Linked DNA regions of Homo sapiens: region 2 is linked to region 1. The links come from fine-mapping of genetic effects on gene expression. Tissue or cell type: whole blood. Region 1 holds a variant in brackets; the other region holds the start of a gene. All regions are shown on one strand. Distances are between the middles of the regions.

Evidence for each region. PIP is the estimated chance that this variant, and not a neighbour inherited with it, causes the effect.
Region 2: it holds the start of SLC35E2B, and the variant in region 1 is fine-mapped to the expression of SLC35E2B in whole blood (TOPMed, PIP above 0.99).

What each region holds. Positions count from the first base shown.
Region 1 is chr1:1,647,553-1,652,552 of GRCh38, reverse strand. It overlaps CDK11B (cyclin dependent kinase 11B), which reads left to right. Exons shown (of 20, transcript NM_033486.3): 4 at 1-114; 5 at 2,916-3,054. Among named protein-coding and RNA genes, the nearest start is that of CDK11B, 9.0 kb to the left of the region's middle. The variant T/C (reference allele first, on the strand shown) is at 2,669.
Region 2 is chr1:1,689,920-1,696,741 of GRCh38, reverse strand. It overlaps SLC35E2B (solute carrier family 35 member E2B), which reads left to right and starts at 3,947. Exons shown (of 10, transcript NM_001290264.2): 1 at 3,947-4,293; 2 at 5,349-5,766. RefSeq lists silencers at 3,474-3,553, 4,124-4,283 and an enhancer at 4,118-4,412.

The sequences.
Region 1 (5,000 bases):
ATTCTTTGGCCATCAAACCACCCCAGCAAATGTCTCGGAAAGAAAAAGCTCATCACAGAAAAGATGAAAAGAGAAAAGAGAAACGTAGGCATCGTAGCCATTCAGCAGAAGGGGGTACAGAAGCATTTACTTTCTTTGACATCATGTTCAAGTGTGGTTTCTTTCCTGTTCCTACTCTTCTGCCTTCCCCAGAGCACCACTGAAAAACCAGAGAAAGCAAACTCTAGCTGAAAGCATACGTGTGTCACAGACCGTTCAGAATGGCTATAGAGAGAATACTCTAGCTAAAAGCATGCGTGCGTCACAGACCGAAAACCAGAGAGAGCAAACTCTAGCTGAAAGCATGCGTGTGTCACAGACCGAAAACCAGAAAGAGCAAACTCTAGCTGAAAGCGTGCGTGTGTCACAGACCATTCAGAATGGCTATAGAGAGAATAGCTGAAAGCATGCATGTGTCACAGACCGTTCAGAAGGGCTATGAGAGCAAACTAACTAAAAGCATGCGTGTGTCACAGACCAAAAACCAGAGAGAGCAAACTCTAGCTGAAAGCACGCGTGTGTCACAGACCATTCAGAAGGGCTATACAGAGCAAACTCTAGCTAAAAGCATGTGTGTGTCACAGACTAAAAACCAGAGAGAGCAAACTCTAGCTGAAAGCATGCATGTGTCACAGACCATTCAGAAGGGCTATACAGAGCAAACTCTAGCTAAAAGCATGCGTGTGTCACAGACCAAAAACCAGAGAGAGCAAACTCTAGCTGAAAGCGTGCGTGTGTTACAGACCATTCAGAAGGGCTATAGAGAGAATACTCTATCTGAAAGCATGCGTGTGTCACAGACCATTCAGAGGGGCTATAGAGAGCAAACTCCAGCTGAAAGCATGCGTGTGTCACAGACCGTTCAGAAGGGCTATACAGAGCAAACTCTAGCTAAAAGCATGCATGTGTCCCAGACCGAAAACCAGAGAGAGCAAACTCCAGCTGAAAGCATGCGTGTGTCACAGACCATTCAGAAGGGCTATAGAGAGAGTACTCTAGCTGAAAGCGTGCATGTGTCACAGACCATTCAGAGGGGCTATAGAGTACTCTAGCTGAAAGCATGCGTGTGTCACAGACCGTTCAGAGGGGCTACAGAGAGCAAACTCCAGCTGAAAGCATGCGTGTATCACAGACCGAAAACCAGAGAGAGCAAACTCTAGCTGAAAGCGTGCGTGTGTCACAGACCATTCAGAATGGCTAGTCCATTTTTCCTCTGGGGTTTTCTCTCCCCCATTATATTGTTTGGAAGCAGTTTGTTTACATTTAAAATGACCTGAATTCAACAAGTATAGGAGAAAAACACACCCCAAAATGGGTATTTGCTCAAGTCCAAAGAATGGGTTTGGCTTGAGCAGTTTGATCTCGTACCAACATCAGGAGGTTCTTACGGGTGTTAGGAAAATTGGACCTGGAGCCCGATTGAAATGTCATGATTATAAATACACTTGATTAATTAATGTGGCTTCATTGCACAGTGGAGAAGCCCACTGATAGCAAAGCTTTGTTCTGTAGTCTTTGTGAAGAGTGATTTTTGTATTATAAAACTGATAATTATAGTTTATTCAGTATGGAAAAGTTTTAAAAGACGAATATTACAATTCTGCTCTTCTGTGATAGCAGAATTGTTTTTCTTTTTTCTTCTTTCTTCATAATTAGACGCTTACTGCAGATAGTTTTTTATTTTCAAAGTTTTTTATTTAACATAAAATCATGATTATTCGGCTGGGTGCAGTGGCCCAGGCCTGTAATCCCAGCACTTTGGAGGATCAATTGAGTCCGGGAGTTCAAGACCAGCCTGGCCAATATAGCGAGACCCTGTCTCTTTAAAAAAAAAAAAAAAAAAAAAAAAGGCCGGGCGCGGTGGCTCACAACTGTAATCCCCACACTTTGGGAGGCCGAGGCCGGCAGATCACGAGGTCAGAACATCAAGACCATCCTGGCTAACATGGTGGAACCCCGTCTCTACTAAAAAGACAAAAAATTAGCCGGGCGTGGTGGCAGGCGCCTGTAGTACCAGCTACTCGGGAGGCTGAGGCAGGAGAATGGTGTGAACACGGGAGGCGGAGCTTGCAGTGAGCCGAGATTGCGCCACTGCACTCCAGCCTGGGCGACAGAGCAAGACTCCATCTCCAAAAAAAAAAAAGAAAAAAAAGAAAAATTAGGATTACTTAACGTTAACATCATTATTTAAATATTTATTTAAATATTTACTGTTCTTGATTTAATTTCTTTTTTTTTTTTTTTTGGGACGGAGTCTTGCTTGTCACCCAGGCTGGAGTACAGTGGCGCAATCTCAGCTCACTGCAAATTCCATCTCCTGGGTTCACGCTATTCTCCCGCCTCAGCCTCCCGAGTAGCTGGGACTACAGGTGCCCGCCACCACACCCAGCTAATTTTTTGTATTTTTAGTAGAGATGGGGTTTCACCGTGTTAGCCAGGATGGTCCCGATCTGACCTTGTGATCCGCCCACCTCGGCCTCCCAGAGTGCTGGAATTACAGGCGTGAGCCACCGCGCCCGGTCTTAATTTCAGTTTCACGTGGGTTTTTTTTTTTTTTTTGCCCAGGCTGTAGTGCAGTGGCGTGATCTCGGCTCACTGCAACCTCCGCCTCCCGGGTTCAAGCAATTCT[T/C]CTGCCTCAGCCTCGCTTAGTAGCTGGGATTACAGGTGCCTGCCACCACGCCCAGCTAATTTTTGTATTTTTAGTAGAGACGGGGTTTCACCATGTTGGCCAGGATGGCCTTGAACTCCTGACCTCAGGTGATCCGCCCGCCTCAGCCTCCCAAAGTGCTAGGATTACAGGCATAAGCCTCCGTGCCCGGCTTCATGTGAAATTTTTGAAGTGAGGTTTCTTTGCATGACACTTTATTTCTCATTAGGGAAGCATGCTAGAGTGAAAGAAAAAGAAAGAGAGCACGAACGTCGGAAACGGCATCGAGAAGAACAGGATAAAGCTCGCCGGGAATGGGAAAGACAGAAGAGAAGGGAGATGGCAAGGGAGCATTCCAGGAGAGAAAGGTGAGTCGGCTGGGTCAGTTGAGGACTTTATAAAAGGGCTGTGGTAGTGTGTCCCATCCTAGAAATGAAGAAGAATTTGGCAATAGAAGTCACATCTGAGCCAGGTGTGGTGGCTCACGCCTGTAATCCCAGCACTTTGGGAGGCCGAGGTGGGCGGATCATGAGGTGAGGAGATGGAGACCATCCTGGCTGACATGGTGAAACCCCGTCTCTACTAAAAAAATACAAAAAATTAGCTGGGCATGGTGGCGGGCACCTGTAGTCCCAGCTACTTGGGAGGCTGAGGCAGGAGAATGGCGTGAACCCGGAAGGTGGAGCTTGCATTGAGCTGAGATCCCGCCACTGCACTCCAGCCTGGGCGACAGAGCGAGACTCCGTCTCAAAAAAAAAAGAAGAAGTCACATTTGGTGCAGAAGTGGTAGACATGGAAACAGCACAGTGAACGCTGGACGAGGCTGACCAAGAGAACTGTCCTGAGGGAGTGAGTTTTCACTGCATCTGGAAGTAAGAACGGGTGTGATTTGATTGAGGGAAGACAATGAAGGGATCAGAAATCTGCATGTCCGGCCGGGCGCGGTGGCTCATGCCTGTAATCCTAGCACTTTAGGAGGCTGAGGTGGTTGGATCCCTTGAGCCTGGAGGTCAAGGCTGCAGTAAGCTATGACCATGCTATTGCACTCCAGCCTGGTTGACAGAGTGAGACTGTCTCAAAAAAAGGAGAAGGGAGATCCTAAAAACCTTGAAACAGTCTGGAATTCGGGACCCTGGACTCCCAGGACTCCTGGCCATTAGTTTATATATTCGTTCCCCTTTATGAGCCAGATTCCCAAGAAAGAACATCGGTGTAGCCCCAGATCTGTTCCGTGAACCAGGAAAAAGGCTGTAGGCCAGGTGGGAGCAGGCCCATCTCCGCCTTCAGAGTGAGTCCACAGAAAGCTTGCAAGCTGCTCCAGGAAGAGAGGAGTCTGAAGCGGAAGGGCAGCGATGTTTGCCAGCAGCCAGGGCTGGGTACACAGCATGTAAAGATGATGAGAGGGCGCTGGTTCTTGTTGATGCCGAAGGGTGTGGGAGACACTGAGGCCCAGGGGTCAAGGTCCGAGACCGCTGCGGGGTGAGCAAGGTTTCAGTTGGCCTAGTTCCTGTTAGTGTGTGAAACATTCATGTATGCCACACCCTGTGCCAGACATTGAGTGTGTCTTGTCCCACGAGAGTACAGCTTGGGATAGAAGTGGAGGTTGGTAGATGAAATTTGGGCTGTCATATTGATTTCCCAGAAGGTAAAGACAGGAGAGTGAATGAGCAAAAATTGTTGGGGGCAGACTTCTGGGTAGGGCCGATTCAGATCAGCCAATCCAGAACTGGGTATGGTAGCATATGCTACGTGGGAGGCTAAGGCCAGAGGACCGCATGACGCCAGCCTGGGCAACGTAGGGAGACCTTGTCTCTGACAAAAAGGAAACTGATAAGGATAATCTGAGAAGCACTGATGCTTGGAAAACTGCTGAGCTGTGGGTGAAAGCAGTAAGAATCTGACCTTCTGGCCTGAGAGCTGCTCCCTTTACTGCTTCCACTCTGCACTTGGGAAGCACGGAGGTTCCACTGGGACAGGGCAGCTGCAGGACCTGCAGTTTCCTTGCTGCCTTGGAAGGGGTTACTCCGTTTAGAGCAGTGGGCAGTGGCCTTGCCCACCAGCATCCTCAGTGGAGGGAGGAAGAAAAGGCCAAGAGGTCTGCTAGAATGAAGTACAGTGTGGTTGGGAGCAGCTGTGATCTCGCCAAAGACGTGCAGCAGAGACTGGAGAGAGCTCGAGCCGCCACCCACTTGTGACCAGCCCTGAGGATGCAGCTGCGTGAAAGGACCTGGCAGAAAATAGAAGCCGCCACAGATGCGAATGACGCGTGAACGTTCAGTGTGCTCCCTGTCCACACACAGCCGTGGGCCAAGGA
Region 2 (6,822 bases), 43 kb before region 1:
TGAAGGGCCCAGGAAAGCATGAGCGGCCCTGACATGTATGGAGGGTCCAAAGGCTGCGGGAACTTGCCCGTGAGTGACCTTGGCCTGGAGAACTCCCCGGCCTCAGTTTCCCCACCTGCTGATGAGGACAAATTGCAGGGGCATGAGCGGCTGCTGCTCCCCTACCTCTGCGCAGGTGGCCGAGTGGCCTGCAGGCTGGGTCTCCAGGTGGGGACCCTTCCCTCTTCCTCCCCACCCACTCTATCCCCTTCCGGCGTCATGTGGATAGAAATTCATTAATATGCACAACAAATGACTACATGCAAGCAGGAAAACATTTGCAATAATACAGCAGGTCGATGTTCTCAACTAGCAAAACAGATGCAATAATACAATTCGTGGATGTTCTCAATACAGACAAAGCTCATATAATCGACACAAAACATTCACAGAAAAATTGTCAAAGGGCAGAAACCGATGACTCAAGGAAGAATATAAATAGCTAAGAAGTAAATGATCAATAATCAAACTAGAACATAATCAAAGAACTTTAAAATTAAAATTATTAATACACTCCTCCCAGGCAAAATAGCAAAGAGAGGGGACATGGTGGCTCACACCTGTAATCCCAACACTTTGGGAGGACGAGGTGGGAGGTCCTTCTGGGGAGAGGAAGAGAGGAAAGCACACAGGCTTCCAGACACTATTCCAAAATCATTAATACGCACACCCCAGGCCCAGCACGGTGACAGCCACCTGCAGACCCAGCTACTCGGGAGGCTGAGGCCAGAGAGCCCTGAGTTTGAGCCCAGCCTGGGCAAAGTAGCGAGATCCCCCATCTCAAAAATAAAATAAAATGCATGGTTCCTCATGAAATGTAAGGCTTTGCTATAAAAACTTTGAGAGGCCAGGCGTGGTGGCTCACACCTGTAATCCCAGCACTTTGGGAGGCCAAGGTGGGTGGATCATGAGGTCAGGAGTTCAAGAGCATCCTGGCTAACAACGGTGAAACCCCGTCTCTACTAAAAATACAAAACAATTAGCTGGGCATGGTGGCGGGTGCCTGTGATCCCAACTCCTCGGGAGGCTGAGGCAGAAGAATCTCTTGAACCTGGGAGGTGGAGCTTGCAGTGAGCCGAGATCGCGCCACTGCACTCCAGCCTGGGCGACAGAGTGAGACTCCGTCTCAAAAAAAAATAAAGGCCGGGCGTGGGGTAGCTCACGCCTGTAATCCCAGCACTTTGGGAGGCTGAAGCGGGCAGATCACAAGGTCAGGAGATGGAGAACATCTTGGCCAACATGGTGAAACCCTGTCTCTACTAAAAATATAAAAATTAGCTGGGCGTGAGGGCACACATCTGTAATCCCAGCTACTCAGGAGGCTGAGGCAGGAGAATCACTTGAACCCGGGAGGCGGAGGTTGCAGTGAGCTGAGATCGTGCCACTGCACTCCAACCTGGGCGATGAGAGCGAAATTCCATCTCAAAAAAAAAAGGAGTACTTTTTATAAATCTGCTTTTGAAATCATTTGGATACCACAGCGGCCCTGCTGACCACAACAGCTGAGACTGTTGGGCAAATCACCAGACATTTCTGGGTTTCCTGGAAAGTAGGAGAATCTACTTTGTAAACTGCTCTCAAATTTATGAACTCCGTGTGGATAGTGAACTCAGGCAGCAGGCAGGTGGCACTCCACTGCGTTAATTTCACTTCATTTTATAATTTTCTTTCTTCCTTTTTTTTTTTTTTTTTTTTTTGACGGAGTCTCACTCTGTCGCCAGGCTGGAGTGCAGTGGCCCAATCTTGGCTCACTGCAAGCTCTGCCTCCTGAGTTCAAGTGATTCTCCTGCCTCAGCCTCCCAAGTAGCTGGGATTACAGGCACGTGCCACCATGCCCGGCTAATTTTTTTTCGTATTTTTTGTAGAGACGGGGTTTCATCGTGTTAGCCAGGATGGTCTCGATCTCCTGACCTCGTGATCCGCCCGCCTCGGCCACCCAAAGTGCTGGGATTACAGGCGCGAGCCAACGCACCCAGCCTTTTTTTTTTTTTTTTTTTTTTTTTTTTTTTTTTTGTGAGACAAGGGTCTCACTCTGTCGCCCAGGCTGGAGTGTGGTGCTGTGATTCTAGCTCACTGCAGCCTCAAGCTCCCAGGCTCAAGCCATCCTCCCACCTCAGCCTCCCGAGTGGTTGGAACCACAGACACCATCGCTGCGCTCTGACCGGCTCCCGGGGGCGCTCCGTGCCCCTCCTCCTGCCCCACTCCTCTGGGGACATCCCCACCAAAGACCCCACGGGAGGAAACAGTCCCAGCCTCTGGCCCAACCCGGCTGCGGGCGCCACGGGGAAGCCTGGGGAAGGAGGCTGCCATCAGCCTCCTGAAGCTTTACGAAGGTTCATGCAACGGAAACAAAAACAAGTGGAAGTTTAACAAAACGTAAAAGTAATATTTATTTATTTATTTATTTATGAGATGAAGTCTCCCACTGTCGCCCAGGTCGGAGAGCAGCGGCGCTATCTCGCCTCACTGCAACCTTCAACTCCAAGGTTCAAGCGATTCTCCTGCCTCAACCTCCCGAGTAGCGGGGACCACAGGCACGCGCCACGAGACCCGGGTAATTTTTTTTTGTATTTTTAGTAGAGATGGGGGGGGGTTCACTATGTTGGCCAGGCTGGTCTCGAACTCCTGACCTCAGGCGATCCGCCCGCCTCAGCCTCTCAAAATGCTGGGATTACAGACGTGAGCCACCTCGCCCGGCCAAAAGTAATCTTTTCTTTTTTCTTTTGACAGGGAGTCTCGCTCTGTCGCCAGGCTGGAGTGCAGTGGCGCCATCTCGGCTCACTGCAACCTCCGCCTCCCGGGTTCAGGTGATCCTCCTTCCTCAGCCTCCGGAGTAGCTGGGATTACAGGCGCCCGCCACCACGCCCGGCCAATTTTTGTATTTTTAGTAGAGACGACGTTTTACCACGTTGGCCATACCAGGCTGGTCTCAAGCTCCTGACCTCGTGATGCGCCGGCCTCGGCCTCCCAAAGTGTTGAGATTACAGGCGTGAGCCACCGGGCCCGGCCCAAAAGTAATCTCTAAAGAGCCCTTTAGCCGTAACTTCATTCCTGAAAATTATTTGGGAAAGTAACGCTAGGAAAACGCTCGACGAAGCTCCGGAGCCGGGGGTCCTCGGGGCCGCAGGCGCGCCCGCGGGTGTCTGCTCCGGATGTCCCGCGGCAGCCCCGACGCCAGCCTGGATACGAAGGCCCCGCCCCGGAGCGCGCCACCAGCCAATCAGCGCCCTGAGGCGAGTCCTCACCCCGCGCGGCGGCCCCGCCCCCCGCAGCTCCGGGCCCAGCTGTCAGAGCAGCTTTCCCTCAGGCTGGGCGGAGCGTGGCCACTTCCGCCAGGAGGCGCCTTTGTGTCTTCTAAGTTAAGCCTATTCAGTGGATTTCTTATTCCTGGAACCCAAACCTGGGCAGTAAACCCTCCGGGGCTTAGAGGCCGCTGCCTCCACAGACTGGCCGATCCCGCCCTGAAGTGCCGCTGGTGGAACAGCCCGGGCGGAACCGCCCGGGCGGAACCAACGGGCTGCCGCGGGGGGTGGGGCCACGGTCCCCCCCCTTCTGCCTTCAGTGGAACGGCCCCGGCGGAACCAACGGGCCACGGGGATGCACTACGCGCACCGTCGTCCTCTCCCTCTGCCTGCAGTGGAACGGCCCGGGCGGAACCAACGTGCGGCCGCCCGGAGCACTCGGCGCGCCGTGTCCCTCCCCGTGTGGCTGCACTGCAACGGCCCGGGCTGGACCACCAGGCGGCAGCGGAGAGGCACTTAAAAGCCCCGTGTTACCCTAGACCTTAAAAAAAAAAAAAAAACTGCGTGTTTCCACCCCCGTCGGCCTGCAGTGGAAGGGCCCGAGCAGAACCAACGGGGGAGGGGACGCTGAGCGCGCCGTGTTTCTCCTCCCGTCTGCCTGGAGTAGAACGGCCCGGGCGGAACCAACGGGCAGCCGCGGGGGCGTTGTGGGCCGCGGCGCGTTTCCCCGGCTCCGTGGCTCTGGGGCACTGAGGAGCGGCGCCCGCGGGGCAGCGAGGAGCCCGATGCAGGGTTCTGCGCGTCATTTCCGGTCCCGCGGGCGCCCCGTGAAGCCCACCTGGATCCGCCAGCGCTGTGCCACTCCCCAGTGCCGAGCTCCGAGCTGTCTCCGCGGCCTCGCGCCCGGCCCCTCCACCGCGCGCCTCTCAGGCCCCGCCCGCCAGCGTCCCTTTGTTGTGAAGGCGCCGGGGCCTAGCGCTATGCCTGCGGCGGAGACTGCATCAGGCTCTCGGTGGGTTCTGCGTGCGGGGTGCTCTGCTCGGTGATCGGTGCTGGGTGCTGCGTGCTCGGTGCTCGGTGCTGGGTGCTGGGTGCCGGTACTGATGCTGAGTGTGCGGGCGTCCGGGGTTTCCCTGCCCGGATTCGCTCCTGGGGGTCCTTTCCTATGGCTGGCGCTGTGCGCGGAAAACGCTGGTGGGGTTTTCCCAGCTGGCTTTAAGCGTTTTCACGTCCGGGAGTCCACGGCGACCCCCACGCCCTGAAGCCTGGGAACGCGGTGTGCGTGGCCGCAAAAAGAACAACAACAACAAAAAAACACAAAACAAAACACGCAAAAAACTAAAGCAAAACTCCCGACAGCCGAGCCCCGTTCGGTGCCTTTTCTTTTTTTTTTTCTTTAATGGAGTGAAATCTACTTTGCTCAGGAAGCCTGCAAATCACATTTTCAGGCCAAACGAGGCAGTATTTTAGAAGGGGTCGCTGAGGCAGGAGTAGGAAGGCTTTCCACTCCACTCACGCATTTTCAGTGTAGGCGAATCGTAAAACGGAGGGCAGAACGAAAATGAGCGGATCTGGGAGTGCAGGCTGCGCTTCGTCCACATCGATAACAGATGTTTCCTGGTGAAGATGTGTAGGGCGCAGCGGGTCACCTGGTCGGGGGAGGGCACAGGGCGTCCCTCCACGGGGTGCCTTTGGCGTTGGGCACTTGTGTGGTCTCCAGCTTCCGGGTTTTGGAAGCGGAGTGTCCCCTGCAGCCTGAGCCTCTTGCAGGTGGTTTCCTTGGGACGAACTCCCAGGGGGAGGTCTGAGTTCTGGGGCATGGTTTGAAGATTTGGGACACATTTTGCCTGAAATTCCCTGCTGGCCGTTTGAACCCACCTGGACTTCCTGACCAGGGGCACGGATTCTTAACCTCTGGTGCAGGGGCCTGGCTAGGAGAGGTCTGCACAGTTGGACGAGGTGCAAAGTGACGCTTTGTCAGTAACCCGGCGTTGAGATTCCTGTGGTGGGACGAGCAGCTCCTATGGCTTTATCCCATTTTAAATCCAAGTTTTCTTTTCCTTCTAGTCCTCGGGCTCCACCCGGGGAGCTGTGCCCAGACAGCAGAAGGGAAGGATGTCACTTCTGAGATGAGGTTCAGAAAGGTCTGGGCTCCTGTCCTGGCTGCTCTCTCCCACTCCCTGATGAGCTTGCTGGATGAAAGCTCCTGTCAGGCTGTGGGGCGTCCTGTGGAGAAGCTGGCAAGAAACTGGTGGGGGCCCTTTCCACCTATAGCCAGCAAGGAACTGAACCCAGCCAGCGTCCACCTGAGTGAGCTCAGAGGTGGGCCTCAGCCCCAGTTGAGCCTTCGGATGAGGTCACAGCCCTGGTCCATGGTGTGACTGCAGCTTCAGGAGGGACCTTAAGCCAGAGGTGCCTGGCTAAGCTTCCCGCAGATTGCTGCCCCACAGGAGCCAACATCAAAAGCATTTGTTGTTTTGAGGTGGTAAGTGTGGAATGACTGTTACAGGGCAGTAGAGAAGGAGCATGCACCCTTCCTGCTTCTTATTTGCCTTTTAGAAATTGTCCTCTGTGAATCGCTTGAACCTGGGAGGTTGAGGTTGCAGTGAGCTGATATCTCACCACTGCACTCCAGCCTGGGCGACAGGAGCGAAACTCCTTCTCCAAAAACATAAATTCTTCTCTGTGAAATATGTTGTTTTGTTTTTTTTTTTTCTTTACTTTTTGAGACGGAGTCTTGCTGTGTCACCCAGGCTGGAGCAGGCGCAGTCTCAGCTCACTGCAACCTCCGCCTCCCAGGTTCAAGTGATTCTGCTGCCTCAGCCTCCTGCGTGGCTGGGATTACAGGCGCCTGCCACCACGCCTGGCTAATTTTTGTATTTTTGGTAGAGACGGAGTTTCATCATGTTGGCCAGGCTGGTCTCGAACTCCTGACCTCAGGTGATCTGCCCGCCTTGGCCTCCCAAAGTGCTGGGATTACAAGCATGAGCCACCATGCCCCGCCAACATTTTTTTTTTTTTGCCTGTTTTTCTACTTGGTTTGTAGGAATTCTTTATACTTTCTGGATATTAATCCTTTGCCATGTTGCAAGTATTTTTTCCCAGGTTGTGGCTGTTGATTTCACTTTATGGTATGTATATATATATATATATTTTTTTTTGTTTCTTTTTTTTTTTTTTGAGACAGAGTTTTGTTCTTATTGCCCAGGCTGTTGTGCAATGGCGCGATCTTGGCTCATCACAACCTCTGCCTCCCGTGTTCAAGTGATTCTCCTGCCTCAGCCTCCTGAGCAGCTGGGGTTAAAGGCATGTGCCACCATGCCGGCCAACTTTGTATTTTTAGTAGAGATGGGGTTTCTCCATGTTGGTCAGACTGATCTGGAACTCCCAACCTCAGGTGATCCACCCACCTCAGCCTCCCAAAGTGCTGGGATTACAGGCGTGAGCCAAGTCTGGCCTTTTTTTTTTTTTTTTGAGACAGGGTCTCACCCTGTTGCCCAGGCTGGAGTGCAGCGGCGCAGTCTGGGCTCACTGCAACCTC